3 separate regions of the Homo sapiens genome follow, and all the other regions are linked to region 2. Evidence: fine-mapped expression QTL. A gene starts in region 2. Each other region holds a variant in brackets. All regions are shown on one strand. Distances are between the middles of the regions. Region 1 overlaps MIA3 (MIA SH3 domain ER export factor 3). Region 2 holds the start of HHIPL2 (HHIP like 2). Region 3 overlaps AIDA (axin interactor, dorsalization associated).

Region 1 (2,770 bases), 110 kb after region 2:
TTCTTCACTGCCTTATTAGCTTTCTGATGCCTTCGAGCACATTCTTTCTATTTTTGTCCATATGTTCTTATTTTCAGTGTTTGCAGACTAACTCATCCATTATTGGAAACAAAATTCTCTTGAATCCTTCTTCAAGACTTGTTTTTTCCACATCCCTTCCTAAGCCAGAGTCAGAGAGGGATTGTTCTGTTCTTATATGCACCTTTTACACATTCAGCTGTGAGCTCCATTAGTGCAGAGGTGGTACTTACCATAGCCATACCTTTATCTTAGTCTCTTACAAGGTAATTAGTATAACCACTCATAAAATATTTGCTGAAGTATTTATTGAATGAGCAGTTGTAAAAGAATACATAAACTTTTTTCTCTTTGGTGTTAATAACCCTTTTTACTATAGCTCCTCTATTTTTGTTTCCAATTTATAGAAAATTTGCAAGTATCTTTTGCATCAGAACTATGAGTAAAGAAGTACAAGGGTAACTACAAGTAGCACTTTTAAACCATTAAATGTTGCTGCCTTTACAATCTGTGTTATAGTTGGCTAACCTCTTGAGCTTGAAGGTTATCAGGTTAAAACCAATTTCCAGTACATAGCACCCTGATTACAGGACAGTTTGGATTCTTTTTCTGTTCAACAGACATTGCCAGTACTCGGATTTGTCTCGCTGCTTTATCATGATTCCATTGAAATAGGTAGGGGAGCTCCATATCTGAAGTGTGAAAATGTTCTGGGGTTAATTGTACAGTTAAGGACATGTTCTAAAAAGCTCTTTCATTGGCTGTCTTTATCATGGTACCAGCCTTGGATTGAGAAACAGCCCATAAGAAAATTAATTAGTGGTCTTTCCATGGTTAGAAATAAGAGAATTATCTCCTGCATCATCCTAATAAGCTTAACTGTGTTAGGTTGATCAGTCCTGGCTTTCTACATTGAAGAAAAGTGAGCATCATTTCAACCCAACAGTCTTTGACACATAGTGTTTTTTCACATTTGTTTCATTTACTAGTGAGGAGAGAATTATGAGACGTTAGAAAATGCAGGTGATGTATCAACAGGCCACAGTTGGATTTTTATCCTAAAGGACAGTTTTATTTCCTTCCTGTGACTTTGTATAATCTATGCATTTTTAAGAATAGGATAGGAAGTGAGATTTTATTGGAGTATTCAGAC[A/G]GAATGCCAGGAGGAAAAGAGAAACACTTTCATTGACAACCAGTTTTATCTTAGGAAACTGAGTCAAGAAGAGTATGAACGGCAAGAAAGAGAGCACAGGCTGTCAGCTGCAGATGAAAAGGCAGTTTCGGCTGCAGAGGAAGTAAAAACTTACAAGTAAGTTCACCTCCTAAAGAGGGTATCAGTGGCTAATGAAACTAGTGTTGGCTTTTTTTATTAGCACAAAAGCATAAATAAGTGGTTAGAGGACATGAATACATCAATTCACACAAAAGAAAAACTAAATTTTAAGTTAACAAATGGAAAAATATTAACAAATACCCAGTGCTGGCAAAACTGTAAGGGAACTTGATTCGTGCAAACAGTTCTGGGGGTTGGAGGGGGTGGGAGCAGTTTGTTATATGATGTATCAAAAGCCATTAAAGTGATTTTGCCATTTGATAGACCCAGTAGTCCTAACTTTGGGAAAATTTTTATGATGTAATTAAAGGATGAAAAAAGGTTTATAGTGGAAGATATTAATAATAGGATTATTTGAGAACATATTTAGGAACAGTTAAAGGAATTGTAATATATCAACTCAATCTCCAGCTGTTAAAGGAAATTATGTATCATTAGTTTTCATCATATTGTACTTTTGTTATAACCAACCATGTAAAATATGCTTTATATTTCTGGATAAGCTCTATTAGGGTACAGTTGTTAGGGTAACGGTTAACATAGTCAGATTGTTTGGGTTTTTATTCAGTTGTGCTTTAAATGATAAAGCCAAGTGTAATTCTTAGGCGGAGAATTGAAGAAATGGAGGATGAATTACAGAAGACAGAGCGGTCATTTAAAAACCAGGTAATAATTCTAGTGCCCTACTATATAGTGCCCGGAATTCTTTGATAACTAATAGAGGCTATTATAATGAATCTGTATGCATATTTTGTGATGTATTATCTTTTTCAGATCGCTACCCATGAGAAGAAAGCTCATGAAAACTGGGTAAGATTTCTTTTTTTCTTTCCCTTATTTTGTGCATAGTCTCCCACAACTGAATTTGGATATTTTTCTTCAATAGCTCAAAGCTCGTGCTGCAGAAAGAGCTATAGCTGAAGAGAAAAGGGAAGCTGCCAATTTGAGACACAAGTATGTGGATTTTGATGGCTATATTTTCAGCGCGTGTTCTCTTAAGGAATTGGTTTCTATTTCATATTTAACTCTTTCTTAAATATTCTTTCTCTATATTCAAGATTATTAGAATTAACACAAAAGATGGCAATGCTGCAAGAAGAACCTGTGATTGTAAAACCAATGCCAGGAAAACCAAATACACAAAACCCTCCACGGAGAGGTAAGGGAGCTACCTTGTAAAGGGCAACAATCTGTTTTTTGATGTAAAATGTATATAAGTGACTTTTTGTTTCTGTGTGTAATGGTTATGGTACCCTAGGAATAATCCCAAGAACTGAATAAAGAAAAAAAGGCTGTCTTAAAATGCTAACAAGATGCTGTCATCTTTAGGTCCTCTGAGCCAGAATGGCTCTTTTGGCCCATCCCCTGTGAGTGGTGGAGAATGCTCCCCTCCATTGACAGTGGAGCCACCCGTGAGAC
Region 2 (2,770 bases):
AGCCCCAGGCGGTGCCACCCAGGTGGCTGACTTTCTGGGCCAGGCTCAGCTGTAATTCTCTCCTGGACTCTGGGAAGCTCGGTTAACCACTTCACGCCCTATGTGGGAGTTACAGTGGTCTGCAGGCTCAGGAACAGTGGCGCCAGGAGTCATGAACAGATGCCTGTGGATAGCCAAGTCATTGTGCTGACAAGCCCAGGGGGTCTCAGTTCAAAAGGCTGCCTGGACTTCTTGCCTCTCCTCCCCAACATCATTAGAGGGGTCCTCCCCAGGCAGCCTCTTTTATCAGCTTTCCAAATGCTGACCTCTCCCCATTAACCCCCAAACACCCTCTTCCTACAAAGTCTGTGTGTGCAGCCTACACCCGTCTTGTTTTCAGGCTGAGCTCAATCAAAACGATGCCTCCCAGGCATGTGGATTTTGGCTGTTGGGCAACCAGGAGAAGCAGAAACTCTGTGAGTCACTGCTACTCAGCAGCTTGCATCTCTCTCTTCCAGCTCTGGAGTGCTGGGCAGACAGAACTCTGGAGAGAGTCTCCAACCCCTGCCACCGCCAGGGTGACGCCAGAGATGCCCTGGCACAAATCACCCAGATGAAAAGGACTGGACCCCAGCAGATGCCACCACTCCCTCCCTTAACGCGCTCGGTAAATTCCACGGGTTTAAGTGCCTAGCTCTCTGAGCACCGCAGAGGATGCAAATAATTATTTGCCATGCACCACAGAGGGAGTGTGGCAAATAATGGCTGCTCTGAGAGCTCCAGGAAGAGTGTCCCTCTCATTCTCCTGGAGCCTGGAGAAGAATCAGGGCCAGCAGAATCCCAGAGGGAGAGCTTTGGGGAACCCATGGAGACCAAATTCAGCACACACTCATGTCAGTGTGCGTGTCCAAAGCCGGCAGCTCCAAGATGAGGCACCCGGCACATGAACTTCTAAAGGGCTGGGCTCCCAAAGCACCCTCCGCTCAGGACCCACACCATGCAGCCCAGCACCCAAACCCCTGGGGCTGGAAGGCACTTTTCACTACCTGGCAAAGGATGTCTTTAATGTAATCTCCACACAGCTCATGTCTCTTCAGATCAAAATATTCCATGATGTCCCAGTACCGGGCAGCGATGCGGCGGTCCTTGTGCTGATCACAGCAGCCGAAGGACTCATAGTCAGAGCAAAACTCAAGGTGCAGAGGGGGCTGGAAAGGGGGCCCGTAATCCAGGCACTGGGGGTGTCCCTGCAGCAAGCCCACCTGGCCCAACAAGAATATGAGGCAGAGGCAGAGAATGCCAGAAGAGAGCCAGGGGGCCCGGCAATGCAGACCACCACACAGATTAGGAGTGGACGTTCTCAGCATTTTGGCCTTGGGAACACTCGGGCTGCTGTGTTTGCTCAGGTTGGCTTCCCTGCTCTGCCCAAGGTCCTCCCTCTCTTCCTCCCCCTACTCCACCCTGTTTTCTCCTCCTTCCTCCTCTTCCCCGCCCCTCCCTGCTGAGGTAGTTTCTGAGCAGTGTCCCTTCTGTGGGCTCCCTTTGAAAGCAGTGGGAGGTGTCCCTTCCCCCCTCCCCCAACCCATCTAAACATGAAGCCCCACTCTAGTGCTGCTAGTGTTATGGGGGCACACCTTTGCTTAGCCAAAAGTGTAGTGGTGTCAATGGCAGAGGTGCTCGATTCCTTAAAACTGCAAAGAATTCCTGCTGTCTGTGGGGATGCCCGGAAATTCACACTTTTTTATGTTTCTTCACAGGCTGAGAGGCCCAGAGTCACCATGAGAGCACCATATATTACATCATCCCAGACTTCACACTCTGTAGAAGGAAAGCTTCAAGCGTTTCTACAGTGCTGAAGGGCCCCAAGGCGGTGGGAGATATGGAGGGGCCATGGCAGGAGGCAGGGTGTGCTGTATAGCTCCTGGGATCTGGCAAGGTGTATATTTGGAAGGGTAGGAAGAGAGGGCATTTCATGAATCTTGCATCCACAGTAAGGACCAAGGAGAGGAAGGAGGACACAGTGAAGGAAAAGAAGGGGAATCTTAGTCCATGCTGCTGTAACAAAACACCACAGACTGTAATTATAAATAATAGAAATGTATTGGTCACAGTTCTGGAGGCTGGGAAGTCCAAGATCAAGATGGCAGTAGGGGCTGGGCATGGTGGTTCATGCATGTAATCCCAGCACTGCGGGAGCCTGAGGCAGGAGGATTACTTGAGCCCAGGAGGTTGAGACCAAACTGGGCAATGCTGTGAGACCCCGTCTCTACAAATATAAAAAGAAAATTAACCAGCCATGGTGGTGCACACCTGTAGTTCCAGCTACTTGGGAAGCTGAGTCAGGAGGATTGCTTGAGCCCAGGAGTTTGAGGCTGCAGTCAGCTATGATCACGCCACTGCACTCCAGCCTGGGCAACAGAGCAAGACCATCTCTAAAAATAAAAAAAAATAAGAGATGCCAACAGGTTCAGTGTCCGACGAGGGCTCTGTTCCTCATTGATGGTGACTTGTTGCTCCCATGGTGGGACAGGATGGTTCAAATCCACTCCTTCAAGACCTTTTATAAAGACCCTAATCCTATCCATGAGGCCTCTGCCTTCATGACCTAATCACCTCCCAAAGGCTCCACTTCTTAATACTATCACATTGGCGATTACATTCCAATCTATGAATCTGAGGTAGGGAGGGACACATTCAGACCATAGAAGAGGGAGGTGGTCCAGTGAAAACAAGGAATCAACAAGGACTGTTTGGGACAATTTCCTCAGGAAGCACAGGACAACTGGGTGCC
Region 3 (2,770 bases), 140 kb after region 2:
CCTGTAATCCCAGCACTTTGGGAGGCTGAGGCAGATGGATCCCTGGCAGACAGGAGTTTGAGACCAGCCTGGCCAACACAGTGAAACCCCATCTCTACTAAAAATACAAAAAAATTAGCCAGGCCTGGTGGCACACGCCTGTAATTCCAGCTACTCCAGAGGCTGAGTCATGAGAATTGCTTGAACCCAGGAGATGGAGGTTGCAGCGAGCGGAGATCATGCCACTGCACTCCAGCCTGGTCAACAGAGCCAGACTGTCTCAAAAGCTGTCTCAAGAAAAAAGAAAATATGTATGTGTGTGTGTGTATATATATATATATATATATATATATATATATATATATACACACATACACACACACACATATATATACATATATATGTATATATATGTATATATATATACACACACACACACATATATATACACACACACACACGTATATATATTTGTACAGCTGTACAAAGTGTTTGTATTTTAAGCTAAATGATATTACAAAAGAGTCAAAAGTTTTAAAAAGTTAAAGTTAATAAAGTTTATATACAGTAAACTAAGGTTAATTTATTATTAAAGACAGGATAATTTTTACAATAAATTTAGTTTAGCCTAATTGTACAGTGTTTATAAAGTCTACGGTAGTGTACAATAATGTCCTAGGCCTTCATATCCACTTATCACTCACTCACTGACTCACCCAGAGCAACTTTCAGTCCTGCAAGCTCCATTCATAGTAAGTACCCTATAAAGGCATACCATTTTATTATCTTTTATATGTACTTTTACTATCCTTTTTCTACTATGTTCAGATAGGTTACATACATAAAAACTTACCACTGTGTTACAATTGCCTACAGTATTCAGTACAGTAACAGGTTGTAGAGGTTTGTAGCCTAGGAGCAATAGGCTATACCATATAGGCTATACCATCTAGGTTTGTGTAAGTGCACTCTATGATGCTCACACAACAAAATCACCTAAGGATGTATTTCCTTGAGTGCATCCCTGTCATTAAGTGACAAATGATTGTATATATACACATGTACTTCCATATTTATATACACACATTCACAAAGAGGGATTTATCCTGAAGAGAAGACTTCAAACAATATGGGACCACCTCCTGTGTTCTGGCTGTGACCAATCTGTATTTCAATGATTACATTCTGGCATGTAAACTTAAAGAGAGGCATCTTACAATTCTAGCTACCTCTGAAGGGTATGTATGTAATTCAGTTTCATTTCTGGCCTTATGGGTGCCCAGTAACTACTCGTGATTACATTAAAGTGAATTCATGGCATAAACTGGAAGACCTAAAAGGCTTCCATGATTTTGTACTCAGTTTACTCAATCTTTAATTTTGGAGTCCTGCAGTTTAGAGCTAAAATGGGTGTGGCATATTGGCATCCCAAAGGAGGAAATCCAGAGACTGCATGTTGCAATTCCGTGACTTACTCCAACATTCCTTCATCTTATTCTTATATTATAATCTATACGTTTATATGTATATAATCTTATAATATATACTCTTCATACATATAATCTATACCTTCTTATATATATAATCTTATATACATAATCCACAGTATATTCATTCTTATGTATGTAATCTATACCAAACCCTCCTGTGAGAAAGAACTC[T/A]GAGGCTGGTGTCTAGATTCTCATTCATTCTCTTTCTTTCTTCTTCTCAACAAATATGGATTGAGTGCCTATAATGTTCCAATCACTGATTTAGATGCTGAAGAGAACAGTGATAAAGACAGAGAGTCTTTGCCCTCATATATGGATCTCAGACTCTCATCAGAAAAAGCAATAAGCCAACAAGTAAGAATGTAACTGTGATTAGTGTTATAAAGGACACAAACAGGATGAGTGTGTAAATGGATTAAGTAGAGAAGAGGGAAAACTTTAGCTAAGGTAGACAGGGTAAGCCTTTCAAAACCAAATTATTAGAAGACATTTGAGCCATGACCTAGGATGAGAGGAACCATATGCAGGCAGCTGTAGGGAAAGGGCTTTCCAGGGATTAGCGAACAGCCTGGAGCAACAACAAAGGCTCTGAGGCAGAAACTAGTCAGGCTTATTCAAGGAATAAATCAACTGTATAGCAGAAGTTTGATAAGCAAGGCAGAAGTGGCAGAAGATGAAAGTTAGAAGGTTTGAAATCAAATCCTAGCCCAAGAATTATGCCAAGACTTCAACATTCACATAGCCACTCTGAATCTCAGTTTCCTCAATTCTACAATGAGAACATTTCCTTCAGAGTCTGTTGTCAGAATTAAAATCACGAAATTACATAGAAAAATTTAAAGTACAAGTATAAACCTACATTATTATATAACTCATTCTCTACCACTATTTAGCCGACTAGAATCCTTGCATTTCAGATCTCACTAAAAAGCACTATTTTTAAAAAAAAAATTATAAGAACATCCTTTCTAAACTTCGTACATGATAGCTCATTGTTAGTAAATGGTTAATTCAACTCAATAAATATCAATTAATCACTAACATAATATTGTATTAGATACTAAGAATGGGAAAGGGGAACAGGTGACAAAAAAGACCATGTGTCAGTCATATCAGAAACAAAAACATATAGTAATATTTTAATAATAAAATGGGGGAAAAAATCAACCTTTACATTTGTATAAAACACCAACAAAAAAGCTGAAAACTGTATCAGTTACTAGGAGTATCTTCCCTTTGTATTGTAATAGAAGAATTAAACAGTATTTTCTTAGGTATCAATGTTTTGAAAAGGAAATGTT

What was found.
Region 1: its variant is fine-mapped to the expression of HHIPL2 in whole blood (TOPMed, PIP above 0.99).
Region 3: its variant is fine-mapped to the expression of HHIPL2 in whole blood (TOPMed, PIP 0.94).

The regions. Positions count from the first base shown.
Region 1 is chr1:222,657,497-222,660,266 of GRCh38, forward strand. MIA3 (MIA SH3 domain ER export factor 3) reads left to right here. Exons shown (of 28, transcript NM_198551.4): 19 at 1,226-1,327; 20 at 1,957-2,017; 21 at 2,126-2,161; 22 at 2,238-2,305; 23 at 2,410-2,510; 24 at 2,681-2,770. Among named protein-coding and RNA genes, the nearest start is that of MIA3, 41 kb to the left of the region's middle. The variant A/G (reference allele first, on the strand shown) is at 1,172.
Region 2 is chr1:222,546,699-222,549,468 of GRCh38, forward strand. It overlaps HHIPL2 (HHIP like 2), which reads right to left and starts at 1,406. Exons shown (of 9, transcript NM_024746.4): 1 at 1,026-1,406. The coding sequence starts at 1,346.
Region 3 is chr1:222,689,177-222,691,946 of GRCh38, forward strand. The region is part of intron 4 of AIDA (axin interactor, dorsalization associated); the gene reads right to left. Among named protein-coding and RNA genes, the nearest start is that of AIDA, 22 kb to the right of the region's middle. The variant T/A (reference allele first, on the strand shown) is at 1,641.